Linked DNA regions of Homo sapiens. The protein of the gene in region 3 purifies or fractionates together with the protein of the main gene of each other region. This does not show direct contact. Each region holds a gene or a part of one and is shown on either strand. Other genes may lie near its edges. The genes, in order: LIG1, NSDHL, SYT6, CSTF3, CYRIB, NAA15 and SFXN1.

Region 1 (4,407 bases), on a different chromosome or scaffold from region 3:
AATCATCTTGTGTCTTTTTTCTCAACACTATTTTGGAGATCCATCTCTGATCCTGTGTCTGTTGGATCCACCCTTTTTTTTTTTTTTTTTTTAAAAGATGGAGTCTCACTCTTATCGTGGAGGCTGTAGTGTAGTGGCACGATCTTGGCTCACTGCACCCTCTGCCTCCTGGGTTCAAGCAATTCTCCTGCCTCAGCCTCCCGAGTAGCTGGGACTACAGGCACACGCCACCACACTGGCTCATTTTTGTGGTTTTAGTAGAGATGGGGTTTCACCATGTTGGCCAGGCTGGTCTCCTCAGGGGTCCACTTCCTGTAACTGCCCCGAGCCCTGTGGCTCCCACCCACTTTGCCTGCTTACCTATCCCCAGGTGAGAAGGCCCCACACTTGCCAGGACAGAAGAGACACAACACATTCTTACAGACCCCAGGACCAAGGACGCCTGAGGCCCTGGATCACAGGACACACATGCACGTCACGGCATGAAGGGGTCATGTAGGCACCTCCCAGAACGGCTGTTAAAATGAACACACCCACCAGCAGCATCAGCGGAGCCCACGTTTCATGAGCTCCCACTATCATCGGTCAGGACTCTGGAGGATTGTAGCTTCGGATAAGCTGGTGAGGTAGTTAAGACCACACCCTAGAGGCCAGGCACGATGGTTCATGCCTGTAATCCCAGCACTTTGGGAGGCTGAGGTGGGTGGATCATGAGGTCAAGAGATCGAGACCATCTTGGCCAACATGGTGAAACCTCGTCTCTACTAAAAATACAAAAAATTAGCCGGGCACGGTAGCGGGCGCCTGTAGTCCCAGCTACTTGGGAGGCTGAGGCAGGAGAATCACTTGAAGCCAGGAGGTGGAGGTTACAGTGAGCCAAGATCATGCCAATGCACTCCAGCCTGGATGACAGAGTGAGACTCTGTCTCAAAAAAAAAAAAAAAAAAAAAAAAAAAGAACACACTCACTGCATGGAGGTGGATGCTGAAGCCCAGAGAGATGAGCGAGGGCTCGGCAGTCTGTGGCGCAGGCCGGCTTGAAGCTCAGGCCTCAGTGACCCCACACCCCTGCTCTTTGACGTTTTCCTGTCTGTGGAAGGGACATGTCCCACTCCCCATACCTGTGCCCTCTGCCCGTCATATTTGTATTCGCAGGTGAAAGCTGCCTCCTCAAAGCGTTTCAGGACCTCGCTGATGCCCCGGGTGGGATGGGCCAACATTGGTTTCAGGGGAATCCCTGGGAAAGGAGGAGAGTGAGTTAGAGGAGAGGGAAGGCAATGGATTAGAGGGGGAACATGGAGAGGAGAACTGCTAATGGGCCCCAGGACCATTCTGCTTTCTTGCTATTCAGTCACGAAGCCTCCCACGTTTTAGAAGGGGACCTAGCCTCCCACTGGGGACTACAGCCCCCGGCCTTCCTTCCAGGTGGGAAAGGCCATGTGATTGGAACCCACGCAGCATGTGCAATGTCTGGCTCACATCCTTGCAAGGAATCTGGTTGCCTCCCCTCCCTCCTCTGCGTCCCTCCTCCCACAATTAGAACAGGGAAGTGAGCCACATTTGATCACAGACATTGGGGTGACAACCTTTGGAGGGCAGAGGGACACAGGAACCTGGGTCCCCGGGTCATCCCTGGGACACAGCTGCACACCTGTACCTTCCCTGGCCACCTCCCTTGCTCTGGACACTTCTGTGTGACAGAAAGAAATTCTATCTGGCCTGACCCACTGCCTTCTGGCCCATTTTTATTTACTTATTTATTGTCTCACTCTGTCGCCCAGCTGGAGTGCAGTAGCGCGATGACGGCTCACTGCAGCCTTGAACTCCTGGGCTCAAGCGATCCTCCCACCTCAGCCTCCCGAGTAGCTGGGATCACAGGCACACGCCACCACGCCCGGCTCCTGTTTATCACAGCAGTGTCACCTACACCCTATCTACTCCACAAGGGGAAATTCCAAGGAGAAAAGCAGTGGGTTTCAGCACCAGGGAGGAGCATTTGGTTTTGGTGGGGGAGAGGACTCTGCAAGTTCTGAGAGGGGCGCCTACGATGGCCACCCTCACGCCGACTCAGGAGGGAGCAGGGCTGCTGCCAGGCTGGTGAGCGCCCCTGGGGCCTGTACCTGGGCTCAGCTTGCAGTGCTCCGGGAGACGTTCCAGGCCGTGCTCCAGCAGCACGGGGATAATTCGGTCCAGGTCGGGAACCTCGCTGGGGTGGCGGGTGAGAACAAGATAGGGGAAGCCTTTCTAGAACTCACACAGTTTGGAAAGAGAGCTCGGCCTGCTCCCAGAAGCCTGGGCTCCTGGATGCCTCTGCCCACTGAGTCACCACCTGCCAAGCTCCTCTTGCCACCCTGTCTCTGTGCTCTCCCTTCGTGTCACTATCTGTTGCTTTGTCTCCCTTAGTCTGGCCTTGCCCCTGTTCCCTATCTGTCACCACGAGACCAGCGATTCTCTACTCGGCTACACAGGAGACCACTCAAGAATACAGTTTTTAAAAAAAGGTTTTTGGCCGGGCATGGTGGCTCATGCCTACAGGCATGTAATCCCAGCACTTTGGGAGGCCGAGGTGGGTGCATCACTTGAGCCCAGGAGTTCAAGACCAGCCTAGCCAACATGGTGAAATCCCATCTTTACTAAAAATATAAAAGTTAGCTGGGGGTGGTGGCACGCGCCTGTAGTCCCAGCTACTCAGGAGACTGAGGCAGGAGAATCACTTGAACCCTGGAGGCGGAAGTTGCAGTGAGCTGAGATTGTGCTGCTGCACTCCAGCCTGGATGACAGGGCGAGACTCCGTCTCAAACAAAATAAAAATAGACAAAGGTTTTCAAGGCTAGGTTCCACCTACAAAGATTTTGATGTAGCTGGTGTGGGGTAGGCCTGAGGTCAGCAGCTGATAGAGCCCCACGTGCAGGCAGAGTTGAGCTTGCTGCCCGGGCCTGTTCACCACTCTCTGCTCAGCACCCAGTGGGGGGCCCTGGCCCAGAGCAGGTGCTCTGAGGCCATCTGTGGAACTGCCATCGGCCCTCCTGCCTCTGACATCCTCTCTGGGGCAGTCATGATCTTGGAGTCACCAGCCCTGGGTCAGCTGCTGGCCTAGGTCCCTCCACATGGCTCTCTCTGGAGCCCTCGTGGCCGCTCCACGGATGTCCTCTCCATGACTGTCAAGACCCTTCACCATGTGTCAGTCACCTGCTCCTCTCTGGGTCCCTTAAGGCCTTTCTGCATGCACAGCCCTGTCTGGCACTCAGAAACCTCATGTTGCCGGCTGCCCTCCCTTGCTGTCAGCGTCTTTCTTTTTTTTAAGACAGTCTCACTCTGTTGCCCAGGCTGGAACGCAGTGGCGTGATCTCAGCTCACTGCAGCCTCCAACTCCTGGGTTCAAATGATTCTTGTGCCTCAGTTTCCCAAGTAGCTGGGATTACAGGCTAATTTTTGTATTTTTAGTAGAGACAGGGTTTCACCATGTTGGCCAGGCTGGTCTCAAACTCCTGACCTCAAGTGATCTGCCTGCTTCAGGCTCCCAAGTGCTGGGATTACAGGCGTGAGCCACTGTGCCTGGCCGCTGCCAGCGTCTTTCTATACCTCTCCTGGGGTCACTGACCCTTCACTGTTTGCCACCTTCCTGATCTTTGTCACCATCCTTGTGTCAAGCACCAGCCTTGTCTAGATCACCACCTCTGCTCTCAGTCACCCCGTGACCGGCACTCGTGATGCCTGTCCGTCACTTCACTGGCCCCACCCACTGCTCCTCTGGCTCCACCCCCACCCTGGCACTCTGCCCACAGCCCCTGGCAACTCCACCCACTGCCCAGCTCTCACCAGAACGTCTGCTTCAGGATCATGCCTTGCTCCTCCAGCCACGTCTTTCTGGCCTCTGCTGTCTTGCCCTTCCCAGCATCCACCATGGCTGGTGGGAATTCTAAGAAAAGACCCACCAGAGGCTTTGGAAGGCACCCACATCCTTGGCTACACCAGGGTGCAGTGGGTGGTTTGCTGTATGGCAAGGAATGCAGATGCCGCGGCCCAAGACGCCCCCTCCCCCCCACCCAGGAGAGAGGAGCCTGGTATGGCAGGGGCCCGCTGGGGAAGGGGCGGGCATGGGCCTCTGAAGAGGAGGGGGGAAGCCTGAGGTAACTCCAGCGAGGGATGCAGAGACGGGCCACAGGAGCTCACCTTGGCCCGGGGGCGTGAGGCTCACTGCCTGGGAGAGGGCAGCCAGCACCGACTGCTCTGCCAGCCCAAGGCGCAGCCGTCCGCTCAGGGACCTGGGGAGAGAGCAGGCCAGGGAAGGGGGCTTGTCTGCACCTCCCCAATCTTGCCTCCTCCCTTCTCTGATCTCCTCGACCTTGATGTATGTAGACCCTCTCCTCAAAAACCAGAAGAATCTTCAGAGCCTGGAAGGGACCCC
Region 2 (4,407 bases), on a different chromosome or scaffold from region 3:
TGAAAATGCAGGACAGACAGCTGGGCAAAAACTGGTAAGATCAAATCAGAAGGCCCTGGTTTGCGTTCAAAGGCTAAAATCCACCAACACTGCCAGAAGACATGCCTCGGCAGCAGTTTGTGGAAAACGTCCAAAGGTTCTGGCAAACAAGTTAGCCGTGAGCCTCCAGTGACTTGAACTGCATGTGCCGCCCACGTTTCCACCAGGCCGGGTCTGTTCCAGGCAATTCTGAGTATCACCTCCGAGGGGAGGGCTCTGAGAAACCCAAGTGGGCCCAGAAGAGGGTCAGAGAAGGTGAAGGGTCTGAAGACCATGCCTGGGGAGAAACAGGCCAGCAGCTGGGGGGCAAAGGAGGCCGAGACATGTAAAGTCCTCAGAGCAGTGCCTGGTCCAGAGCCAGTGCTCCTGTTGCCACCGCAAGGAAAGGGTGACTTCTGTGTGACTTCATGGACAAACTAGAACTCAAGAGTCTAAAGCACAGTGAAATGGGTTTCGCCTCAAAAGTAACAAAACTTTCCAAAGGATTTGTTTTATCGTGGGTAAAAGTGGTGATCATAAAGGTACCTACCCTGACGGGGCTGCATGCGAATTACACGAGATGGCCCATGTGAGTTGCTTCAGTGCGTGTCTGTATGCTTGGTAAGTACGGTTCCTGCTGTCATGTCACCTCGGGTTTCTTCTACTCTATGGTAGCAAAGTGCTGGTCTATGTTTTGGCCCCAGTGATCTTAAGCAACTCAACAATGGAAAAGCTGCCTCTCAACAGATTCCCAGAGCTGGCCCTCCTCTTCCCGCCAGGACTCTGGTCCCCACAGCGATGGAGGAAATGACTAAATAAACCCTCAAATGGCTTCCACCAAGGCTCATCTCTACTACTAAAGGGAAGAGAGGTGAAGGAGTCCTAGCTCCCCATCACATTTGGTTTATGATCAGTAGGAAGGTTATAAAGCCAACAGTGGATGTCAACCTCGGCTGAAAGGAGGCTTCCGGTGAGTTACTGCTGGAGTCATCTGCAGGCTTTGCTTATTTCCAGTTGAGAACCCAAAAGTTGATATAAGCGAGACACTGATGGTCTGGGCCAAGGCCATCATTTGAAGCTCCTGAGCCTAGATGGGCTCAGCTCTGGTGGCAATCAGTATCAGGCATATTGGGTTGAGAATACACAGGGTCTCCATGGTGACTGAACTGCCTGCAAGGCGCAGGGAGGCTTTAGTACTCCTTGGGCCAAGTTCGAGCACATGAGTGCTCCAAGGAGCAAGACAGCATAGTCTGGAGCCAGGACTGTGGCTTGCCAAAGTTCAAGCCTCCACCCCTGGTCTGGGTGGCCCTTGTGTCTCCCTGTGGACCAGTTCTGCCAGGACTTTCTGAGCTGAAGCAACAGCAGACAGGCTGGGCATGGTGGCTCACGCCTGTAATCCCAGCACTTTGAGAGGCCAAGGCGGGCAGATCATGAGGTCAGGAGTTCGAGACCATCCGACCAACACGGTGAAACCCCGTCTCTACTAAAAATACAAAAATTAGCCGGGCATGGTGGCACGCGCCTGTAATCCCAGCTACTCAGGAGGCTGAGGCAGGAGAATCGCTTGAACCTGGGAGGTGGAGGTTGCAGTGAGCCGAGATCGTGCCACTGCACTCCAGCCTGGGCAACAGAGTGAGAATCCATCTCAAAAAAGAAAAAAAAAAAAAATACGGCAAACAGCCAGGAGGCAGCTGGCTCTCAGGTAGCCAGGTCAGTGTTCAGCTCCAGTACAGCATGTACCGGCTTTGCGAGAAAACCTCAGTGGGTGTGATACACTGCACACACCTGGGAGGGGTATACTCACAGCTACCCAGCTAAGACGAGCTATCCCAGGCTCAGGAGCACTCCTGGCCTGCAGCTTAGGATGGCCTCAGGGTGACAATCCCCATCTGCAGCTAGCAGTTGTCAGGGGCCCCACAGCCCCAGCAGCCTGAAGGCTTGGTAGCGACCGTGGCTGAATCCAACCATACTAAAATCAGGTGCCCTTTGATGAAGCTGTTTTGCCAAGTGGAAAAGTACTTTTTCCTTAAAATAAAGCAAGATCCTTCCGTTGTTTGTTTTTCTAAGTAAGGGAGGGGGTGAGAGTGCCACTAGGAAGGTGCCTCCAGCCTGATTCCTGTCTGCACGCTTGCAACTGCTGTAAATTCCCATAGCAGGCGAGGAAGCTCCCATGGCATTGAGGGTGGGCTGTAAGCTCTGTAGACAGACTGCCTGGGGTCAGCCACCTCCTAGCTGCACAGTTTTAGAAAGGTTCTGAGCCTCTCTGTGCATCTGTGCACCACAGTCTTCATCTATAATCTGGTGATGATGCGATAATTGTGACCTTTAAACAAGGAAAATACTCCTGGAAAACACTCAGAACAGTGTCTGGCCACATAAAGCTGTTCTCATAGTAACTTTTTTTTTTTTGGGAGACAGCGTCTCTCTCTCTCTATCCCCCAGGCTGGAGTGCAATGGCACAATCTCGGCTCACTGCAACCTCCGCCTCCCAGGTTCAAGCAATTCTCATACCTCAGCCTCCCAAGTGGCTAGGATTACAGGCGCCTGCCACCATGCTGGGCTAATTTTTGTATTTTTAGTAGAGATGGGGTTTCGCCATGTTGGCCAGGCTGGTCTCGAACTCCTGACCTCAGGTGATCCACCCACCTCGGCCTCCCAAAGTGCTGGGATTATAAGCGTGAGCCACCGTGCCCGGCCTCTCACAGTATTTTTAAATTTAATTTCACCCACAAATTTTACATCTCAAATCAGGTACGTAGGCCTCAGAATACAAACTTCATAAGTTCATAAACATTTTTCTTAGGATTCTAAACCCTTCAGTCTGCTCACTCAACCAGTTCCAAGGTACATACCCTCTCCTGTAAGATCTTAGTCTCTGTGTAGTAGTCAATGGGTTTCATGGCATAGGGAAGGTCTTCAGTTCCATTCTTGATATCGACGCCCTCAAAGATGACACTGGCACTGCTGGTTAAAATGAGTTTCTGACAGAGGAAGGTCAGAAAAAATAAAAGTCACAAATTATCACAATTCAAACAGTGCATGATCCTGTATGAAAGAGAATCAGGGGCATCCCTTTGTTGCCCTCGCATTCGAGGCACTGAAGAAATTATTTGCTGCAATGCCTTTGCTTTTCATGCCTTCTTAAAATAATCCAAAGATCACCATCTTTTGCAGCTATGTGGATTCCAGACACACTATGTATTACATTCTAACCAAGAATCAAGAGATCTTGGTTTCAAAACAAGGGATAACACATTTTTTCTATCCCATCACACCTGAGAGATAGAATAGACTTGCATTCATGGTATCTCACTATGACAGCGATTCTCTGTTGTAAGTGAAGGGCAGCCCGCAAACTTCTAGGAAGATGTCTGAAAAAGATCACTGGCTATTCTGATAGTGACCTGGCCATGTGAACACACATAGGAATACACACACCACACGACCTCTTAAGAAATGCTATTCTAAAGGAAGATATTCTCTTATGAGGGTCCCCAGCGTCCAGCCTGCTGGTTAAGAGAAGCTCATCCAACACTGAACACCATTAGCATGAATCATATCGTTCCCATTCTTATTCAACATTGTATGAGAAGCTCTAGCCAGAGTGGTAGGGTAAGATAAACACGAATTTATAATGATTTGAAAAGAAACTGAACTTCCATCGCTTACAGATGAGAGAAAAATCTACACAGAAAACACAGGCAAATATGTAGAAAATATTAGCGTTTGGCAAAGTTGCTGAATTAAAAATCAATATACAAAAATTAACTCGTCTTATATATTAGCAATAACTGAAAATGTAATAGAAAGTTATTAAATAACAAAAAACGAAGTACATACAAATAAATTTAACGAGATATGCAAAATCTTTACGAAGTAAAGTATAAAACTCTATTGATGACATTAAAGAGCGAGATAAACAGAAACATATCCCATATTTATGGACAGGAACACTCAATATGGGAAAGATGTCAATTCTCTCCAAAATTACCTACAAGTTCAACACAATTACAACAGCAGTCTCAGCTGGCTTTAGCAAGGAACTGGTTAAGCCAAACATATGTAGAAGAACAAAGGGCTCAGAATAGCCAAGTGAAGTTTGAAGAAATTGGTTGGGGGCGTGATTTATCTACGGTACACTGAGACTTATCCTAAAAAGGCAGAGCTTCTCTGCATGGGCAGACAGGGAGGTCAATGGGGCAGAGGGGAGAGCCTGGGAACAGGCCCATGTAAGACACAAACACCTAAGACATGCTGCAGATGGTGTGCAGCGATGCAGAAAGGATGGATTATGCAATAAATGGCACTGAACTGGTTATACACATGGAAGAAAGTTAGATCTCTATCTCACACCATAAGCAAACATAAATTCCTGGTGGATTAAAGACT
Region 3 (3,946 bases):
TGTCCTCCTGAGTGCCCCTGAATAAATACGATGAGCAAAGCTCCTAGCTGACCTGTGATAGCTGAGCAAGGCTCCTAGCTGACCTGTGATGGGCGCCTATCATGGATGAGAAATAGGCTTTTGTGGTTTTCAGCTACTGCAATCTGCAGGTTGTAATTGCAGCATAGCCCAACCCATACTAACAGACACAATGACCCCTTTGGTTTATCAGCTCTAGATGTGACCAGCACATTGCCACATCCTGCTGGCTGCTGGGTGACCTGATGGGAAGCCACTGGCAAGGGGAGGCTGCCTCTTCAGGCAGTAGAGTGCTGCTCTCAGCAGTTCAGCTCACTGGGCCTCTCACGGTGGAGCACCCCTCATTCAGATGCAGATGTGCAGGAATGGACGGTCCCTTCCACTCCCCTCTCTACGGACTGCTCTCTAAATTAATTAAAAGCTGCAGGCGAGCAGAGAGATATTCTATTACATTAGAATGTTCTTTTTTTAAAAAAAAATGTTGAGGCTGCAATAGTATTTTCCCATGGCTTTGCCAAATTGTGTTTTACGATGGTTAGCAGGATTCTCTACTGGTGGGTGACAGCATCGTACTTCCCAGATGTGTGTGGCCCACTTCCCTAGGGGAGCTTCAGCATCTGCAGGGGTTGCTTGTTGAGCTGAACAGCTGAGGGAACAGCGGAGCCCTGTGCGCCAAATGATCTCCGAGCCACAAGCCTGACAAAACACAGGTGGATTCCAGCCTGATGAGGTACACAGGTATTCCTTGGACAGAACAAAAAACAAACAAGCCGTTCTGCTCTACCTCTGATAGAAGGGAAGTGGTTATCCATGTGAAGCAAAGATTGAGAAGAAAAGCTTTGAGATGTCCTGTGCGTGTGTTGACTGCTAAACCCCAGGAACATAAAATGACAAGAGAAATGGGCAAGAGACAGAGATTTAATTGAATAAAAACTCCAGGCTGTGACACGGGTGGGAAGACACAAACGAGTAATTAACAACATAATATTTTAAATGACAGTGCAATTAATTAACGTCCTGGGTAAGCGCAGAGGGGGAGGAGGGCGTCTTTCAGCCCGGAAACACTGCTAAATAAAGGAGAAGGGAACTTTTCATGTTTTTTAAAAAAACCTATGTGCAAATGGCCCTGGTTATCACAACTTCATCAAAGCTCACAGCAACAACCCGAGAGGTTTCTCCGGCCAGAGAAAGCCAACAAATGGATCAACTTTGTATTTCATTTTCTTCTTCTCTGTGAGGGAAGAGATACTGGGCTAGATAATGAAGTTGGCAGATGTTCAGGTTTCATTCATGATTCAGGCTGAGGAGTAGTCTACCTTGAGGGTGCTGGGGATGAGGCTGCAGGAGATAAAAGCCTCCCTGGGGTGGGCTCCCAAGCCTGTAGGAATTGACCCAGACTGCTAGAGCAGCAGCGGTTGCAGTTGGCCAGGGTGGTGTGGGGCTGGCTAGAATCTGTTCAGGACATGATTTTCTGAAACCACTGGGATGTTCACTCATGGGAGATAGCTGCTTGGATATAAGAGGAATGTCTCAGATGAGCAATACTATTGTGATTCACATTGATCACACTCCCTTCTCCAAGAGGTTAGAATGGGTTATACTCACCTGCCTAAGGGTTTAACGATGACAGCTGGACATGAATTTTGAGTTCACTTCCAGAAGGACCTTCTCACACTAATTTCTGGACTCCTTATGACCCAGGGAACTCAGTTGTCTCCTTTGTAATGGCAAGGCCTTCAGCATCTGTTCACTGACGGAAACGACTATCTTGATGGGGTCAGTCTAGAGTCAGAATCATAATGAAGTCTGTCACCTGCCAGGAATCTTGTCATGACCTTGGGTTTTTTCTCACTCTCAGGAGAACACCCAAATGTAGGACTACCAGACTAGGAAGGCCTGTCAATGACAAGATATCTGGGGAGAAAAGTCATCTTTACACATGAGTCCCTAGCCTAAGGCTCAGTACAGGGTGGAGTTTAGGTTTATCTACATTTACTTTTCTAAGCAGAAAATTCCTTTTGCCACAATATCCTGTTAACTCATGCCCAACCTGGTCATTTTTAGGGCTAGAAGATACTATGCAGCGTTCTATCAGCAGAGAAATCTGACAACTTGGTTTAAAATGAGGGATACTTTATTGGTCGCTGCTCCTCTACCATGTAGCATATATAAAGAATAAGACACAGGTGTGTGAACAGATTTTCTGTTCTTGATTTTCCACTGTTAAAAGAAGGGGTTCTTCAGCAGACTTGCCTCTTGCAAGTAGTACACACAGCTCAGGAAACTGGCACTGTGTCGCCACAAGTCGAAGTAGAAACTCACCTCCATGCGCTTACTGGGGTTATACAAACTGAGATTGAGCAAATCAACCTGGTTTTAGGGGTTGGTGGGAAGACCACTATTAACTCAACAGAAATGTGCTATTACAACACAGAATAGTTCAAACAATTTTTTTTTTCCTAAACTGAGTTTGGCCTAAGGTAAAGATCTAAAGGAAACAAGAAACCCTCACAACCACTGAAACAAACAACACTGAAGTACTTAGTAATTTATAGAACTAAAGTTTAAGATGAATATTGTCAAAGAGCCAAAGGGGCTGAAATAGGCTTACGCTGACTCGGTTTCAATCAAAAACATACTCTTCATAGAAAGATGGACTCAAACTGCTATTTGGATTTCAAAACTCCCCATTTGGAAAAGAACATTTAATCTAGGTTTTTCTTTAATCTGTTTAGGCATTTTAAACAGCAGCTTGATACTTCATGGAATTATAAAGCTATGTATAATGCAGAAATCATTCCAGAACATATGTTTCTCTCTTACTTTACAATCAAGATTATTTCTGAGGACAAAGATCCTGTTTTCAAACAAATGTGATCATTAACTGTGGCGCATCAGAAAACATATGGCGTGTTTAGTTTCGGCTGAACTGAATCATTCCTAAAGAAAGTGACTAAGTTCCCATGAGGAATCAAGACGTTTTCAATTCATGGGGAAAGCCAGCGAGGAAGGGGAGCGAGGAACCCTGCACATCAGCTGAAGGCTCACAAGCGCCTCAGAGGTCTTGTGATTTCAACACGGGACTGAGGGTCCCAGCGTGGTTTATGTCCTGCCAGCGAAGAGCTTCAAAGACTAGTAATTCACCTCACAAAGGCTCTTCCATGGATTCACCCCATTCCTGCAGGGCACTGAAAATGCAGCCGCAGTCCCACCACGCCTCCTCCTTTTCCAGGGTTGTGGAGCTTGCTGGAGACGCAGCATTTCAGAAACTCAATCCACCTCTTTCCAAAAAACTGTACCTTGTATTTTCTAGAACCAACTTCTGGGCTTTCCACCCTTTGTCTTTTCCTACTCTTTTTTTTTTTCCCTTTTCTTACCAGCAGACCCATAAAAAGTGAAAAACCACAAAAACATCACCTTGGGAGACACAAAAGACTAAGACAGATCTGACCACATGACAAGTGTCTCAGCTTTGACCTACACAGGAGCAGGTAAGACTCTGGAGTGACGGACGGCTGCCGCTGCTGCCGCCACTGCGACTGCACAACACTGTTTAGACGGTTGAACAAGTGCAAAGAGAACATTGCTGAGTCCCATTTGTGTTATTTGGCTGCACATCTCATGGTGTTGGAGGTGGTTTCGGAGATGGGCACGAGCTCTCACTGTCGAAGCTAGCAGCTCGGCCCTGCCACTGCAAAGAGGAGAACAATCTGTTTATTAATTGCTAAAGGAATTTACATTTCAACTTGCAAAACTGAACTGGCCCAATGCACTGAATTCACCTTTCCTAGCTTCTCATAAGCTTTCTTGAATTTTGCTGTCAGCCATGCAAAAACATAAGGGAAACAGCTTAGAGCTTCTAGTTTGGAATACCTGATTTTCAAAAAGACCTACTGCAGAGATAATTAAAGCTTTCTTAACTCTCTCT
Region 4 (4,407 bases), on a different chromosome or scaffold from region 3:
TTTATTTATGAATATATTCAAGTTTACAGAACCATCACACATTTAAAACATTTTATCACCCCAAAGAGAAATCTGTACCTGTTAGCAGTCACTCCCATTTCCCTCCAATCCCTAAGCCCTGGGCAACTACTAATCTATTTTGTCTCTAGGGATGTGCCCATATTTAATGTAATCATACAATATGTGTTCTTTTTGTTTCTAGTTTTCTTTTTTCTTTGAGACAGGATCTCACTCTGTCACCCAGGCTCGAATGCAGTGGCACAATCATGGCCCACTGCAGCCTCAACCTCCTGGGCTCAATCAATCCTCCCACCTAGACCTCCCGATAATGGACTACAGGCATGTGCCACCATGCCCAGCTAAATTTTATAATTTATAGAGATGGGGTTTTGCCATATTGTCCAGGCTGGTCTTGAACTCCTGGGCTCAAGCAATCCACCTGCCTCGGCCTCTCAAAGTGTTGGGATTACCACCGTGAGCCACCATGACTGGCGTTGTTTTGGCTTTCAGTTAGCGTGTTTTCAAAGTTCATGTTTTTGCATATACTAAGTACTTTACTTTTGACAATATTCCATTATGTGCATATCCTACATTTGTTTATGTATCAGCCGATGGACTTTGGATTGTTTCCAGTTTTGGCTATTATGAATAATGTTACTATGAACATTAGTGTGTAAGATTTCTTTGTGGAGTTCATTTTGTGTGTTTTCCTTTTTCTTGGATATATACCTAGAAATGGAATGGCTAAGTAATGTGGTAACTCTTATGTTTTACCTTCTGAAAAACTACCAGACTTTAAAGGGGCTGTACTATTTTACATTTCCAGTATAAGGGGTTCTAATTTCTCCATATCCTTACCAACATTTGATATTATCTTTTTTATTACAGCCATCCTTGTGGGTCTGAAGTGATATCTCATTGTGGTTTTGATTTACATTTCTCTGATGGCTATCAAAGTAGAGCGTCTTTTCATTTTCTTATTGGCCATTTGTACATCTTCTTTGGAGAAATGTCTGTTCAAATATTTTGCCCATTTAAAAACTGGACTTATCAGGAGTTTGAGACCAGCCTGGCCAACATGGTGAAACCTTGTCTCTACTAAAAATACAAAAAATTAGCCAGGCATGGTGACAGGCACCTGTAATCCCACCTACTCAGGAGGCTAAGGTGGGAGGATCCCTTGAGCCGGCGGGGAGGGGCAGAGGTTCCACTGAGCCAAGATTGTGCCGCTGCACTCCAGCCTGGGCGACAGAGCGAGACTATGTCTTGAAAAAATAGAAATAAATAAAATAAAAACTGGACGTATTATTATTACTTTTTAGAGGTATAGTTTTGCTATGTTGCTCAGGTTGGACTTGAACTCCTGGGTTCGATCAATCCTCCTGCCTCAGCCTCCCAAATAGCTGGGACTACAGGCGTGCACCACCGCACCTGGCTGGGTTTTTTCATTAATGAATTTTTACATGTTGGAGTTACAAATCCCTTATCAGACATGATTTACAAAAACTGTATCCTATTCTGTGGGATGCCTTGCCACTTTCCATGTTTAACCGTCTGTTATGTGAAGCTAACTAACTCAGAGAAATAGAACTTACAATCTTGGCTTCACAGACATGATGTACTATTCCAACTATTCTCAAACATTTTGTAAAGGATTGCTTCACATTCTTAAAAACTGAGGAGCTTGGGCCGGGCGCGGTGACTCACGCCTGTAATCTCAGCACTTTGGGAGGCCGAGGTGGGCGGATCACAAGGTCAGGAGTTCGAGACCAGCCTGGCCAATTTGGTGAAACCCTGTCTCTACTAAAAATACAAAAAATTAGCTGGGTGTGGGCACATGCCTGTAGTCCTAGCTACTTGGGAAGGTGAGGCAGGAGAATCGCTTGAACCCGGGAGGTGGAGGTTGCAGTGAGCTGGGATCGCACCACTGCACTCCAGCCTGAGCAAGAGTGAGACTCCGCCTCCAAAAAAAAAAATAACAATAATAATTGAGGAGCCCAGAGGGATTCTATCATTACTCACATAAGAAATTAAAACAAAAAATTAAAGTATTTAATTCACTTAAAAATAATAAATTCCTTAAATATGAATATAAATATTTTACTGAAGGAAATTTTCCAAAATAAAAAAAAAAGTCAAAAGAATGGCACCATTTTACATTTTCATGATCTTTTAAATGTCTGGCTGAATAGAAGACATTATCTGCTTCTTTCAATCTGTTACAATATATTGTTTTAGATGAAAAATATGAAAAAATTTTAGCCTCACAGTTACGTAGTTGGAAAAGGGAGGAAAGACCATTTTTAACAGCCTTTACATACAATTGTGGATAGGTGATGTAGCCTCTGGAAAGCCCTATGAGTTATGCTTTATTGAAACTCCTAACCACTTTCTTTCTATATGAGCTCATAACTTTTATTAGGAGGTTGTTAATGGGAAGGTGGGATGTGAAGAGGTGACAGACACTATCATGTTAATGACTGAAATAATATAATTTAAGGCTGGGCACAGTGGGTCACAACTGTAATCTCAGCACTTTGGGAGGCTGAGGTGGGAGGAGTCCTTGAGGCCAGGACGTTGAGGCTGTGGTGAGCTATGACCACGCCAATGCACTGCAGCCTGGGCAACAGAGCAAGATCTCATCTCTAAAAAAAATAGTAATAATAACAATAATAATAATAATCTAATTTCTTCCATTTCGACCATGCAGGTAAAACAGACAAAAAAAAAAAAAAAGATAATTCTCTTTCTCCAAATAGCTACTTTCATGATAAATTAGAAGGGTGTTATATTAGGAGCCATACTGAAATTAAGTTAAAGTAGGGATCAGTTAAAGTGATAACACAAAAGTATGAATAGAGGGGGAGAAAGATGGTAGACTGAAAGATTTAAGACGATGTAAGCTTTTTACTATGACCAACAGAAAAAGCAGAGTTGAGCCTCAACCCTGGTTTTATAATGAGTATTTCTCGCTATTCAGGGTAATAACTAAATATATGGGGGTGGGGAGCAGGTGGGCAGGAAAAATCAGTAAAATACCATCCTCAAATATCTGCCATTTTTTCATCCACTTATTTATCAAGAATATATTTTAAAACAACCAGCTATCATCTAACTCTGTGGTCTGCAAGCTTTTATTGACATAAAAACCACTGTGGTACCTGTTTCAAACGAAGATTCTCAGCCCCACTGAACAGTTAGGTTTGAAATCAGAGTCTACGTATCTATACTTTTATAACGCACCTAATTATGACATAAATGGGCCATGGGCTCCACTTTAAGAAATATGTACCACCTCATCTATCTGTTCCACAAATGTTTTCCAAATGTCACGTTTCATTAAAAATAAGGTGGCAACAAACCTGTCATTCCAAGTGAATTTTTTGCTAAAATATTAAGAAAACTGAATATACTATATATTTGAAGTCTTAAGTCTCTCTCTGTGGTTAACTTTTTTTCAAAATTAAAAGTAGACCGGAGTAGCACTCCGTAAGACTTTCTTTTTTTTTTTTTTTTTTTTTTTGAGATGAAGTCTCACTCTGTCACCTAGGCTGGAGTGCAGTGGCTGTACCTTGGCTCACTGCAACCTCCGACTCCCGGGTTCAAGTGATTATCCTGCCTCAGCCTCCCAAGTAGCTGGGATTACAGGTATGCACCACCACACTCAGCTAATTTTTGTATTTTTAGTAGAGACGGAGTTTCACCATACTAGCCAGGCTGGTCTCAAACTCCTGACCAAGTGATCCGCCAGCCTCAGCCTCCCGAAGTGCTGGGATTACAGACAGGCGTGAGCCACGGTGCCGTGCTGAGACTTTCATAGAGGAGTAACCTAACTGATTCCATTCATATGCCCAGATAATAAAGAACTATATGTGACAGGTGTCACAATGAGACCGGATATTAGGACCAGATGTCAGCTTAGTTCTGTGTTCCTTTACCAATGCAACCAAACCCTACTTCATGTTTGTTGTGAATGAAACTGAACATGTATCCTACAATACAAAACTAATCCCTCCAAATCATCCATAGATTAAAAATCTAAACATACAAACAACTCAAAAACTTAAAAAAAAAAAGATCTTGGGCCGGGCATGGTGGCTCACACCTGTAATCCCAGCGCTTTGGAAGGCCAAGGCGGGCGGATCATGAGGTCAGGAGATCAAGACCATCCTGGCTAACACAGTGAAACCCCATCTCTATTAAAAATATAAAAAATTAGCTGGGCGTGAGGGCGTGGTGGCGGGCACCTATAGTCCCCGCTACTAGGGAGGCTGAGGTAGGAGAATAGCGTGAACCCAGGAAGCGGAGCTTGCAGCGAGCCGTGATTGCGCCACTGTGCTCCAGCCTGGGCGAAAGTGCAAGACTCTGTCTCGAAAAAATAAAAATAAAAAAATTAAAAAAAAAAAA
Region 5 (4,407 bases), on a different chromosome or scaffold from region 3:
CTCACCCACCTGTGACTATGCCCCATGGGAGAAGGACGTGTATATGGAGGCTTTCTGCTAGACTATGCTAGATGCTTTGATACACATTATCCCACTCAATCCTCCAAACATTCCAGGGAAGCAGGTGATAGTAGCCCAGCTTCATCAATGACAATTCTGGTTCTGCAGTGGGATGTGATTTGCCCAAGGTCATGCAGCGCTGAGAAGCAGGCCCAGGGCTCCATCAGCCCTGCCATGCAATAGGCTTTGTTGAGTGAGCACTGGATGTAAATTCCAAAGAGCTTAAAGCGGCCAGACAGAGCCAGTGACAGGAGACTCTATTAGGCAGATGAGGAAAGAATGGAGCTTTTCTTCCTCCTACCGCCCAAGCCTTTCCCATCCTTAACTCCTCTGCACAACGGGGCCCTCACTGTCCTTCCCCCACCTTCTTATCAAAGGATGCTGGTGCTGGGAGGGGGAAAAGACAGAAAGAGGATTAGTCTCTGGCATGGTTTATGTTGATTTCAAAGCTGTCACTTTTCCCACATTGGGCCTTCTTTTTCACTGTGGATTTAAGTGCCTAGTCCCCTGATGAACGAAGGTCAAGGGCAGAGGTACATTTTGAACTAGAGAAAGTCCTCAGCATCCTCCTGCTCTCACAGCCTTACTGCTAAACACAGCAGTGGATGCAGAGGGTGGCACTGTGGAGCGGTGAGCAAAAACCAGGCTCAGGAGCCAGAGGCCTAGGTTCCAGTCCTGACTGTGCCTCTTGGTCAAGATGCTTCCCCCCAGGAGGTCCCAGTTCCCTTGTGTGTTAAAATTAGAGTACTGGATGCTTAGGCCTGAAACTCTGAGTATGGGGTTTCTGCTCAGTCCTTCAGCTCACACTGCCTCTCCTCCCCCGCTCCCTGAAGGCAGCCCCATCTCAATGGCTCACAGCATCTAGGCCCTCCTGGGCTTATTCAGCACCTGCTGGCAGACAGAGGTGGTCTCTCTCCCACCCCTTCCTGCTCCCACTGTCACCTGTCCTGAGGTCCATCCTAGGCCTTTGTCACTTTGTCATATGTGTGTTTTCGCATGCATGCCTCCTCCTCTAAGCTAACTTGGAAACCTCCAGGGTCATGTAGAGATTTGCACCATCAGCATCAGCCTGGCTCCTGAATGAATGAAGGGGAGAGGGTCAGGTTGGATGATCTCCTGGCCCACTGCACTCAAAGTATGGTCTACAATCCAGAGGCATCGCATCATGTGCAAAAGTGTTCAAAATGCAGCATCTCACCCTGCCCCAGCCCCTGCTCAGAACCTCCGAGGCAATCCCCACGTGATGCGCAGCACACTCAAGTTTGGAAAGTTCTCTTCCAACTCCTCCCTCCCTTGCTTCTACCACCTAGAAGCCTCCGGAACTATGGCCTTAGCAGGTCTCACTAAAACATAGCCCATCATTAACCAAAAGAGATCTGCCTTAGGAACCTTCTAGAAGCCCGCCACTGACTCTCACAAGCAGAATCTGAAATGTGTGCTCCCCGGGGGGACTCCTGGCACACATTACTCAGTGGCCCTCTCCGACCCTCAAGGAAGCCCAGGAAGCTTTCAAGAACGCTGAGGCGGCCAGGCGTAATGGCTCATGCCTGTAATCCCAGCACATTGGGAGGCTGAGGTGGGTAGATCACCTGAGGTCAGGAGTTCGAGACCGGCCTGGCCAATATGGGGAAACCCTGTCTCTACTAAAAATACAAAAATTAGCCTGGTGTGGTGGTACGCGCCTGTAATCCCAGCTACTCGGGAGGCTGGGGCAGGAGAATCGCTTGAACCCGGGAGGCAGAGGTTGCGGTGAGCTGAGATCATGCCATTGCACTCTAACCTGGGCAACAAAGCAAGACTCCATCTCAAAAAATAAAAATTAGGCTGGGCATGGTGGCTCACGCCTGTAATCCCAGCACGTTGGGAGGCCGAGGCGGGCGGATCACAAGGTCAGCAGATTGAGACCATCCTAGCAAACACGGTAAAACCCCATCTCTACTAAAAATACAAAAAAAAAAGAAAGAAAGAAATTAGCCAGGCATGGTGGCGGGTGCCTGTAGTCCCAGCTACTCGGGAGGCTGAGGCAGAAGAATGGCATGAATCCGGGAGGCGGAGCTTGCAGTGAGCCGAGATCGCACCACTGCACTCCAGCCTGGGCGACAGAGCGAGACTCCATCTCAAAACTAAAAATAAAAATAAAAATAATTAAAAAAAAAAAGAACGCTGAGGCCTGGCAGAGTCAGACAGACTGGCTGCCCACTCACCCACACGGATCCCATGTCCACGTTCAGAAAGCTCTCTTCCCTCATTTCTCTACTCTTGACATTTATTCAGCTTGTAAAGAAAAGGATCCTTTCCAAAACACGTCTTCAGTTTTTTAATAAACCCCGCAATTCCTTTAATGATTTCAGATTATCTTAAATATTTATAAAAATCACTCTCAGCAACACTTCTTTAAGCAAACCTCCTCATCAACTTCGATTATTTATATATTTATGAACACGATGTTCAAGGAGCAGATGGCAGCTAGTAAGTCCTCCAAAAGAAGGAAAAAAAAAATCAATGGGACAGAATGTAAGCTCCATGACTCGTCCATGTACTCTTCTCGACAAGCTCTGGTACAATTATCTTTCCATTCAGCGGAAGCGCCACACAAAAGTCCACAATTGGTTTAAAATAGCACACTTGGACTTCATAAAGCTTGGAGGCTCCAAGTTTAATCCAGGAATGACCTGCCAGCCAAGGGCTCTATTCCCAAAGGAAACTGAAGCTCTGTCAGGGGAGGGTAAGACATTGGATGCAGGGACAGATGATGGGACCAGGGGAGGGACAGAAAGAGCACCAGGGGCTGAGGGAAGAAACAGACATTGCTGAGCACCTCTAGGTGCCATGCTCTCTGCTGGGCACTTTCCATACAACCTCTGGGTTGATCGTCACAGCAACACTTCCAGGTGGCGACTGTTAGTCCTCATTTGAAAGATGAAGAGAAAGACAAAGAGAAAGGAAGTATCTTGGCCAAGGGCACAGAGCTAGTGAGTGGCAGAGCCAGGATGTGAACCCAGGCTGTAGGGCCCCAAAACCTTCACTGCCTCTAGAAAGAGAAAAGGAGGAGAGGAAAAAAAAAATATTGCTCTCAACCTCATGCATCCTAGGCTAACAAAGTTGCCTTTCTTTCAGCCTGGTGAGGCCAATCACCCATTTTAAGACTATCAAAGACTTAATTGCCAAAGTTCTACTGAAGCAAAAGGACCTGATCCATCTGAGAGCCCAGAGAAGGATGAAAAACAAGATTACAAGGCGTCCGTCTTCAACAGGCCTTTATCAAGTATCCCCTTTAGGGAAGAGAAAAAAAATCAATCCTTCACTCCTCCCACCCGAATTTCCTTCTTTCAAGAAGCTCCAATTCAAGCTAAAACAGAGAGATGAATCTGGCCTTTGAGACGCCTATACGCTTGCTGAGCAAACAGTGATTATTACTGTTGTTGATGATGATAACAATAATCATGGATGGTGATCACTATTATACGGGGTGTGCAATGGGAACAGGGGCCTATGCTAAGGACTTTGCTTATGCTACTGCCAGGAGCAACACATCCCCGTGACACATGCGCCCATTTTACAGATGAGAACACTGAGGCTCCAAGAAGGCAACAAACTTGGTTCCATGCACACGAGCAGTGAGAAAGAAAACCAAGGCATGAATTTGGATCTTACTCTCTTACTCAGGAGCCCTGGGAGACCAACGGGGATTCTTTTGCCTGTTTAGAGATGAGGAAAAGAGGGGGCCGAGAGTGTAGTGACCTCTAGAAGGCTGCACAGCCAAGAGATAGTGAAGGTGTGTCTGATAAAATTCATACTTAAAATCTGAATTTTCAGCTATACAACACTTCCTTTACAATGCTCAGTGGTGGACGATTTTGCTGAAGACAGCCAAGTCCCAGACCGCCAAAGCCACATGAATCGTGGTCTCTTCAATTAACGAGATGGCAGTAATGCTGAGCACGGGTGAGGCCACAACCTCCTGGCACCCGCGTCCCTCGGGCGTCCTTCCTGTTCTTCGTGTGCATGGGTCTCTGGATCCTGATATAAGAGCTGTCAGGGACCAGGATTCCACATAGGGAGGAACCACGGGACAACCATTTCAAGGTCAACTGCAGGCCAGTGCGCTGACCTTGAGATGGAAAAAGAATGTACATCCTCAAAGAGCAAAGGGGAACCCATCATTCTTCTGCCCATTCTGTCAAAAGACACGTACTGTTTCCTGCATGGGCCAGGCAGCAGGTCAGGTGCCAGAGGAAGCACAAAGACCACTCAGCGTCTGCAAGAAGAAAAGTGAGCTCTGCAGGCTGAAGACTTAGGCAAGGACCCTCAATCTGCCCCTTCCTGACTGAAGGTCTTGGGCCAAGT
Region 6 (4,407 bases), on a different chromosome or scaffold from region 3:
CTCCTGAGTAACTGGCATGCACCCCTGCGCCCAGCTCTTCTAACATTTTATATTTTAAATTTTATAACAGGTCTATTTCTTAATATCATATATAGTGGTCATCAACCCTGACTTCGTGTCAGAATCGGTTGTAAAGCTTTATGAAATGACGTATGGCTGAGCCCTACTATCTGAAGATTCTAATACAGCAGCAGGCTCCTCACAACAAACTCATTTAATCCTGATACCATTTCTCCTCCAATGCCAAAACCAAAGAAACAATAACAAAATTTTCCTCTTATTATGCTTTTGTGATGAAAGGCTATATAAACAAATACTATAATTCATTTATAAATTAAACTTCAAAGTCTTACCATAATATAGGCTCTGCCCAATATCCTACAATTATTTCATACACTAATGTACTCTGTAATGCCAAAGCCCAGCTTAACTCCCTTCTCCAAAAATTTATGCAAGCACACAATCCAAAGATCTTTTTCTCTCTTGCCCTGTAATCACTATTTTCACACTCACTTCACATAACAAATATTTATTAAACATCTACTATGGTACATCATTTTAACCAATGTGAATAGAGCCATTAACAGACGTCCTTATCTTCATAAACCCTACATTTTAATTGTGGAAAACGTGATAAACATAAAAGTAAATGTATGTCAGAAGCTGATAAATGAGAATAAAGTAAGAAATAAGAAAATAAGGTGAGAAGGACTGACTGCTAGCCAAGGAAGGTCTCTAAATAACATTTAAAGGACACCTGTTTAGCCAGGCATGGTGGCATGTGCCTGTAGTCCCAGCTACCCAGAAGACTAAGGTGGGAGAATCGCTTGAACCCAGGAGACAGAGGTTGCAGTGAGCCGAGATCACACTACTGCACTCCAGCCCTCCAGCCTGGGCAACAGAGTAAGACTCTGTCTCAAAATTTTTTAAATTAGGCCAGGCATAATGGCTCACACCTGTAATTCCAGCATTTTGGGAGGCCGAGGCAGGTGGATCACCTGAGGCCTGGAGTTCAAGACCAGCCTGGCCAACATGGTGAAACCCCGCCTGTACTAAAAATACAAAAATTAGCCAGGTGTGGTAGGAGGCACCTGGAATCCCAGCTACTCAGGAAGCTGAGGCAGGAGAATCACTTGAACCCAGGAGGCAGAGGCTGAAGTAAACTAAAATTGTGCCACTGCATGCTAGGCTGAGTGACAGAGCAAAACCCTGTCTCAAAAAATAATAATAAAAATAAATTTAAAATTAAAAATAAAGGACATCTGAGCAGAAGTCCTAAAACAAATAAGAAAAATGAGTCACACAGGTATCTGGGGGAGAAAATTCTGAACAGTCCTTTGCATATGATCCTTTATACGACATAGCTTTTTATGTCCAAAAATGTTTTTTTTTTTTTTTTGAGACGGAGTCTCGCTCTGTCGCCCAGGCTGGAGTGCAGTGGCGGGATCTCGGCTCACTGCAAGCTCCGCCTCCTGGGTTCACGCCATTCTCCTGCCTCAGCCTCCCAAGTAGCTGGGACTACAGGCGCCCGCCACTACGCCCGGCTAATTTTTTGTATTTTTAGTAGAGACAGGGTTTCACCGTTTTAGCCAGGATGGTCTCGATCTCCTGACCTCGTGATCCGCCCGCCTCGGCCTCCCAAAGTGCTGGGATTACAGGCGTGAGCCACCGCGCCCGGCCCAAAAATGTTTTTATGAAGAAAGAAGATATATTTGAATCAATGCTCTGTCAGAACTTCATTGTCAGAAGCAGAAATATTAAAAGATATAAGACTGCACACTAAGGAGAGGGATCCCTTCAGTTGAGGCCAGCTGGACAGTATCTCTCCAGTCCCCCAATCACACCGAGCACCATGCCCGCCCCTCTGGAAACTGTTCATTAACCAGCGCTCCAATAGTTTGGATGGCAATTCTATTATCATCAAATAACTAGTTTGAGCCCCAATAATGACCCAGGACTGCAAGACTTTGACACATCTAAAAAATGGAACATTAAATTCAGTTCCCTTTTAAGCTTTAGTCTGCTTTTCTGAAAATATAGTGTTGTCCATCTACTACTATTGAAAACTGAACTGTGGTCACTCTGCACAAACAAGTATTTTTAACCCACTCTATTGACGCAAAAGAATTTTTAAAAAATATTTTTTAAAACATTTCAGGTTTCTAACACAATACAGAATTTTAAAAATATATGCTGTCAGTTTAAAACAAAAACATATATTTGTTCATTCATACTGCATCTCACTCCAGAAAGACAAAAATTAAAAAGTAAGCAAACAGGCCAGGCGCAGTAGCATGTACCATAATCTCAGCTACTTGGCAGGCTGAAGCAGGAGGATCACCTGAGCTCAGGACTAGCCTGGGCAACACAGTGAAATCCTGGACACACACACACACACACACACACACACACACACACACACACACTTAAAAAGCAAGCAAAGAATAAATTTACCACATTATTAAAAGATTTTCACTTCTCACTAGATTTTTTTTTTTTTTTTTGAGACGAAGTTTCACTCTTGTCCCCCAGGCTGGAGAGCAATGGCGCGATCTCGGCTCACTGCAACCTCCACCTCCTGGGTTCAAATAATTCTCCCGCCTCAGCCTCCCAAGTAGCTGGGATTACAGGTGCCTGCAACCACGCCCAGCTAAGTTTCGTATTTTTAGTAAAGACGGGGTTTCACCATGTTGGCCAGGCTGGTCTCTAACTCCTGACCTCAGGTGATCCACCCGCCTCAGCCTCCCAAAGTGCTGGGATTACAGGCGTGAGCCACTGTGCCCGGCCCTCACTCGATTTTTACAGAAAAATCATTTTGTAATTTTTATAATAATTATATACACATTATATACACATATATAAAATAGCAAAACTGCATTTTGTTTTCTGGTATACTTTTAAGGGATAATTTATCCGAGTTTAAATTTACGATTACCGGCAGGGTGCGGTGGCTCACGCCTGTAATCCCAGCACTTGGGAGAGGCTGAGGTGGGTGGATCACCCGAGGTAAGCAGTCTGAGACCAGCCTCGCCAACATGGCGAAACCCTGTCTGTACTAAAAATATAAAACTTAGCTGGGTGTGGTGGTGGACACCTGTAATCCCAGCTACTGGGGAGGCTGAGGCAGGAGAATCACTTGAACCTGGGAGGTGGAGGTTGCAGTGAGTCGGAGAGTGCAGTGAGCTGAGATCACGCCACTGTACTCCAGCCTGGACGACAAAAGTGAGACTCCATCTCAAAAAAATAAATAAACTTATGATTAACTACTAAGAGCTGAATGGGATTTCAGAACAGACCAAACTTTGTTTCCATTTTTTGATTTTTTGTTATATTCTAAATATATGAAGTACAAGCAAAAGTATATTAAAACCAATTTCAAAGTTACTGTCCACTCTTAGTTGCAAAACTGGAATTCTGTCACAAAGAAATTAATCAGTTAAACTTTCATGTGCATATGGACACCTACTTGCTAACAATTCCTAATCTAAATTTCATCAGCAACTGAAGCTAAACTAAGTATCATTAACTAGCAGAAACATTAACTTTCCCAAAGAAAATAAATCACATAAAATAATTTACCTATTATACAATGGGCCGGGCGCGGTGGTTCATGCCTGTAATCCTAGCACTTAGGGAGGCCAAGGCGGGCAGATCAGGAGGTCAGGAGATCGAGACCATCCTGGCTAACACGGTGAAACCCCGTCTCTACTAAAAATACAAAAAATTAGCTGGGTGTGGTGGCAGGTGCCTGTAGTCTCAGCTACTCAGGAGGCTGAGGCAGGAGAATGGCGTGAACCCGGGAGGCAGAGCATGCAATGAGCCGAGATTGCACCACTACACTCCAGCCTGGGCAACAGTGAGACTCCGTCTCAAAAAAATAATAATAATAATAATAATTTACTTATTATACAATGTATACAGCCACCTAATAAGTATTACTACTCCTTTGCCTAACAATTCCCTCACCCTCCTCCTACACCCCTCCCCTAAATAGTTAAACACTAGGCAGGTGTGATGTTAAGTGCCCTGAAAAGAAAAAAAGTTTTATTCCAGACTGTAACTAACACTAGCTGTTGACCTTAATCTCAGTCTGTTTGCTTAATAAAAATGTCCCCACCTTGAAAAGTTTTGAGAATTAAGAAAGGACTCTAAATAAAGCATGCTGTGTCCAAAACGGTAACCATTCACCACATGTGACTATTTGAATTTAAATTAAGATTAATTAAAAATTCATTTCCTCAGTTGCACTAGCCATATTTCAAGTGTGCAATAATTACATGTGGCCAGGCCAGGCACAGTAGCTCACATCTGTAATCCCAGCACTTTGGGAAGCCAAGGCAGGAGGACTGCTTGATCCCAGGAGTTCAAGACTAGCCTGGCCAACATGGCGAAACCCCGTCTCTACCA
Region 7 (4,036 bases), on a different chromosome or scaffold from region 3:
AAGAAGGGGCGATCTTTTATATATCTTTTTGAGCCCAGCACTTGGCACAGGGTATGGTACAGAGAAAAAGCTAGTTAAACATTCATAGGAATTTGGAGGATGAGGAATAGCACTCAAAATATCTGTGACATATTGCTTAAGTTTTAGAAGTTTTGTTTTTCACGTTTGGATCATTAATCCACCTGGAGTTGAGTTTCATGTATTATACAAGTAGGGATTTGGCTATCCCAGTACTGTTTAATGAATATCTAACCTTTGTCCCCTGACCTGTGATGCCAACTCACAGCAGGTTTCTACATGTGCAGGTTTCTACATGGATGGCAACTCTATTTGGCTCCGCGAGGCTCTTTGTTGACCCCGGAGCAAACACACCACCTTTGTTATTTACCATTGTTTTATAACAAGTTTTGTATCTGCAGGACAAGTCACTCTGCCTTGCTCTTTTCTTAAAAGCTTGTTTGGCTGTTTCTGGCTCTTTATTTTTTTCATGTACATTTTGCAGTCCGCTTGTGCAGTTATAACACACACTCCACCAAGCACACTAGTGTTGTCGAATTTTTTTTTATTGTCATAGGTCATTTGGGAGAGAATTTACATCTTTAAAAATGGAATCTTCCTATGCAATTTATGATGTAATTCACCATTTATTAGATTTCATTTGCCCTTTAAATATGCCCAGGTTACCCACCTGGTCCAAAATACCATGATTCCTCTCCTGGATAACCACAGCATCTGGCTAAACAGCCTCTCTGCCTCCACATCCCCTCCCACGCAGTCTGTTCTCCATAAAGAAGACAGAGTGCGCCGTTGTTGTTGTTGTTGTTTAAGACATAAATCAGGTCGTGGCACTAAAGTCCTAAAATCGCCTTGTAGCGCCAGTCTTGCCAAGCTCCACACTTTAATTGGGTAAATGACTGCGTGAACGGATGCTGGCTACGCCAAGGCCCTGGGAATAAAGAAATGATAAAGAAGCAGTCCCTTAAGGGAAACCCAAATGGAACATAGTGGCCCCAGCCCGCGCAGAGCCCCACACCACCGTGAGGATGGGCTTGGAGTTCCTCTTGGACCCGGGGCGCGGTCGCTAAGCCAGAAGCGGAGTCGCGGGCGCGGGGCGGGGCCTGGACCCGGGCCTGGACCCGGAGGGCGGGTCCCTGGGCCTCGTAGCTCCCGGGCCCGGACGCGCGCTCACAGGCGCGCGCGAGGACGCGCTCCGGGGACGCGCGAGGACGCCGTGGCGGGAGAAGCGTTTCCGGTGGCGGCGGAGGCTGCACTGAGCGGGACCTGCGAGCAGCGCGGGCGGCAGCCCGGGGGAAGCGGTGAGTCGCGGGCGGCAGGCCCAGCCAGGTGGGTGGGGAAACGCGCAGGGGGCCCGGCGGAGGCGCGCAGGCTTGGGCAGGCTCGGGCCGTGCACCCGCGGGCCGGCTGCGGGGAGACCCCGGGCTCGGAGGTCGGAAGCCCCTTTGCGGGCCGGGGATGCCTCGGGCCGGGGGGGGGGTCCCTGCACCTGGGGATCCCTGGCATCCTGCGGCCGGACAACACCACGCTTCCAGCATCCCGAGGCCCAGCATCCCGTGGGCCTCGTCCCCGGTGGGAAGGGCCCTCCGCCGCGTCCCCGCGCGCCTGGCCGCGCTGTCTTCGGCGCCTGCGTGGCGAACTCGCTCCGGGGACACCAAGATGGCTGCCTCGGGGGCAGCGGCAGCCAGGTGGCCCAGTGCCTGGCCCAGCGCTCCGCGCTCTCGGCTTTGCCTCCTGGTGCTGGGGGTCGGAGGGGAGACCACCTGGTTCCTGCCCTAGAACTCGCAATCCAGTAGGGAGGTGATGTGCAAGGAAGTAGATTCTTGGAGTAGTAGTTGGTCCTACAGGGACCTTGCATTTTCACGCTTTTCTCCTGAACTTTCACGTCTGTCACAGGTCTCTAACCTGCCCAGAATGACAATAAACAGTCTACTAAGTGCGTGCCAGGTGACTTAGGTCCATATACTTTTACACTCTTCCGGCCCTGCGAGGTACTGGGTGTTGGCTCTATAATCCACATGAGAAAACTGGGGCTCTGAGAGGTTGAGTGCCCAAGGTCACACAGCTGGCCATCCATAGTCCAAGGCCATCTGAGTCTCAGTCGTAAATACTGCGTTCTCAAAGACGCTTTTCCTTGGCTATGCTGTCTAAAATTGCACCCCCCATCCCCCCACACACCCTTTGTAACACAAACTCTGGGTTTTTTCTCTTTAGTGTCTTTTGTCACTAGTTGAAATTAAAGGTGTTTACATGTTTTCTTCTCCTCATGTGAACAGGGCCTATTTTGTGTTGCTCAGCCTATCTATCCCCTGCGCATAACAATTGCCTGCACCAAGAAGGCCCTCAATGAGTATTTGTTGACTGCCTGAACGAAAAAGCCTAGCTCTGCTTCACTCCAGAGCCTGGGCACTTAGCTGCTCCGTAGGCAACTCTTTTCTGCGCCCCCATAGCTTTTTCCCTGCACATTTCTCACAGTCCTAGTCCCTCTTCTGCGTTGACTTCTAGATTTTGACTTGGGTGCCTTTGGATTCTCCCTTCTTTGTCCATCCCCCTTTTACTGATCTGCTTCAGTGTTCTAGGCATTGTTATAGGTGCCCAGGGAGGATGCAGGTAAATGAGGAGGCTTTGCAGCTCCTACAGCTTCAGACTTGATATAAAAGATGAGAGGGAACTGTTTGGGAGGATGAATGGGGTGGCTACCAAGAAGTTCTGGGACCTCAAGCAGATCCTTTCTCTCCTCAGCACTGAGCAGGTGTCTCACTTTCAAAAATACAGTGTTTGGGCCAGGCGCGGTGGCTCACGCCTGTAATCCCAGCACTTTGGGTGGCCGAGGCGGGCGGATCACGAGGTCAGGAGATCAAGACCATCCTGGCTAAGCCGGTGAAACCCCGTCTCTACTAAAAATACAAAAAATTAGCTGGGCGTGGTTGCGGGCGCCTGTAGTCCCAGCTACTCGGGAGGCTGAGGCAGGAGAATGGCCTGAACCCGGGAGGCGGAGCTTGCAGTGAGCCGAGATCGCGCCACTGCACTCCAGCCTGGGCGACAGAGCAAGACTCCGTCTTAAAAAAAAAAAAATACAGTGTTTGGCAGGGAGGAGCTATCAGCTCCCATCTCAGCTTAGTACGTATTCAGAGGTTAGATTGAGGCTTTCAGGCCACATGGATGTTCAGAAAAGGGATGATATCTGTGGTTACAGTTGTCAGAGAGGACCCTATATGGCAAAGGGTGTCATAATTCAGGATCAGTGAAGTGTTTAGCTGTTCTTAATTTTCTGTAAAAGTTCTATGAAACCCCATGGGGATGGATACAGAAAGGCACCAACTGGCAGGGAATATCCCTTCCTGCTCCTCACTTCCTGCAGAGAAAGCTGAGAGGACAGCCTGGACAGCAAAGGTGGTAAGAGCAGACCCGTCATCAAACGTTGTTGTTCTGGAAGACTTACGTTGAAGTCAGGCATCTGTATCCTGTTGTGTAGCAGTGGTGAGCTGCATTCAGTTAGAGTAGAACCATGAGTGTGACCAATTTTTCCTTTGTGGTTAAAGGTAAGAAATCAAAAGTAGTGAATCCATTTTTTAAAAAGGGGGGAACAAAGGGCTGTTGTCCAGAAAGTGAAAAGTCATTAAATTAGACCATGTGTCAAACCTGCACTTAATTACACAAAGTTCAAAGTTACTAAGTTTTTCTTTAGCAGCTGTTAATTTGTAAAATAGTTTTATAGACTTTGGTATATGGCATCTCCGAGTTGATTCTTATACATGGATGGTAAAACTTCATCCAAATATGTCTAAAATTCTAGTTTAGTGTTGTTCATTTTTTGCAGGCTGATATCACCATCTCAAATAGAAATCAGAAGATTTTTTTTTAACTGTAATAACATCACCCATCCTAAGATACTGCTTAAGAAATCCATGCCCATAGTTGATCTTGAGGACTGGAATATGAGCAATGGTTGTAATGTTACATCCGTGTTTTTGTTTTTTGTTGTTGTTTGTTTGGTTTTTGAGATGGAGTCTCGCTCTGT

What was found.
Region 1: the proteins of SYT6 (region 3) and LIG1 purify together in Homo sapiens (affinity purification with mass spectrometry; one large-scale study listed by BioGRID and IntAct). This does not show direct contact.
Region 2: the proteins of SYT6 (region 3) and NSDHL purify together in Homo sapiens (affinity purification with mass spectrometry; one large-scale study listed by BioGRID and IntAct). This does not show direct contact.
Region 4: the proteins of SYT6 (region 3) and CSTF3 purify together in Homo sapiens (affinity purification with mass spectrometry; one large-scale study listed by BioGRID and IntAct). This does not show direct contact.
Region 5: the proteins of SYT6 (region 3) and CYRIB purify together in Homo sapiens (affinity purification with mass spectrometry; one large-scale study listed by BioGRID and IntAct). This does not show direct contact.
Region 6: the proteins of SYT6 (region 3) and NAA15 purify together in Homo sapiens (affinity purification with mass spectrometry; one large-scale study listed by BioGRID and IntAct). This does not show direct contact.
Region 7: the proteins of SYT6 (region 3) and SFXN1 purify together in Homo sapiens (affinity purification with mass spectrometry; one large-scale study listed by BioGRID and IntAct). This does not show direct contact.

Annotation. Positions count from the first base shown.
Region 1 is NC_000019.10:48,131,862-48,136,268, forward strand, and holds part of LIG1 (DNA ligase 1), read right to left. Parts: intron 4,265-4,407; coding exon 4,173-4,264; intron 3,919-4,172; coding exon 3,819-3,918; intron 2,206-3,818; coding exon 2,120-2,205; intron 1,237-2,119; coding exon 1,121-1,236; intron 1-1,120.
Region 2 is NC_000023.11:152,861,188-152,865,594, reverse strand, and holds part of NSDHL (sterol-4-alpha-carboxylate 3-dehydrogenase, decarboxylating), read right to left. Parts: intron 3,000-4,407; coding exon 2,871-2,999; intron 1-2,870. UniProt on the Homo sapiens protein: Catalyzes the NAD(P)(+)-dependent oxidative decarboxylation of the C4 methyl groups of 4-alpha-carboxysterols in post-squalene cholesterol biosynthesis. Also plays a role in the regulation of the endocytic trafficking of EGFR.
Region 3 is NC_000001.11:114,088,374-114,092,319, forward strand, and holds the end of SYT6 (synaptotagmin-6), read right to left. Parts: intron 3,710-3,946; coding exon of another isoform or gene 3,638-3,709; 3' UTR 919-3,637; downstream 1-918.
Region 4 is NC_000011.10:33,150,992-33,155,398, forward strand, and holds part of CSTF3 (cleavage stimulation factor subunit 3), read right to left. Parts: intron 1-4,407. UniProt on the Homo sapiens protein: One of the multiple factors required for polyadenylation and 3'-end cleavage of mammalian pre-mRNAs.
Region 5 is NC_000008.11:130,009,654-130,014,060, forward strand, and holds part of CYRIB (CYFIP-related Rac1 interactor B), read right to left. Parts: intron 1,668-4,407; exon of another isoform or gene 1,003-1,667; intron 1-1,002. UniProt on the Homo sapiens protein: Negatively regulates RAC1 signaling and RAC1-driven cytoskeletal remodeling. Regulates chemotaxis, cell migration and epithelial polarization by controlling the polarity, plasticity, duration and extent of protrusions.
Region 6 is NC_000004.12:139,307,446-139,311,852, reverse strand, and holds part of NAA15 (N-alpha-acetyltransferase 15, NatA auxiliary subunit), read right to left. Parts: intron 1-4,407. UniProt on the Homo sapiens protein: Auxillary subunit of N-terminal acetyltransferase complexes which display alpha (N-terminal) acetyltransferase (NAT) activity. The NAT activity may be important for vascular, hematopoietic and neuronal growth and development.
Region 7 is NC_000005.10:175,477,324-175,481,359, forward strand, and holds the start of SFXN1 (sideroflexin-1), read left to right. Parts: upstream 1-1,236; 5' UTR 1,237-1,316; exon of another isoform or gene 1,317-1,344; intron 1,345-4,036. UniProt on the Homo sapiens protein: Amino acid transporter importing serine, an essential substrate of the mitochondrial branch of the one-carbon pathway, into mitochondria.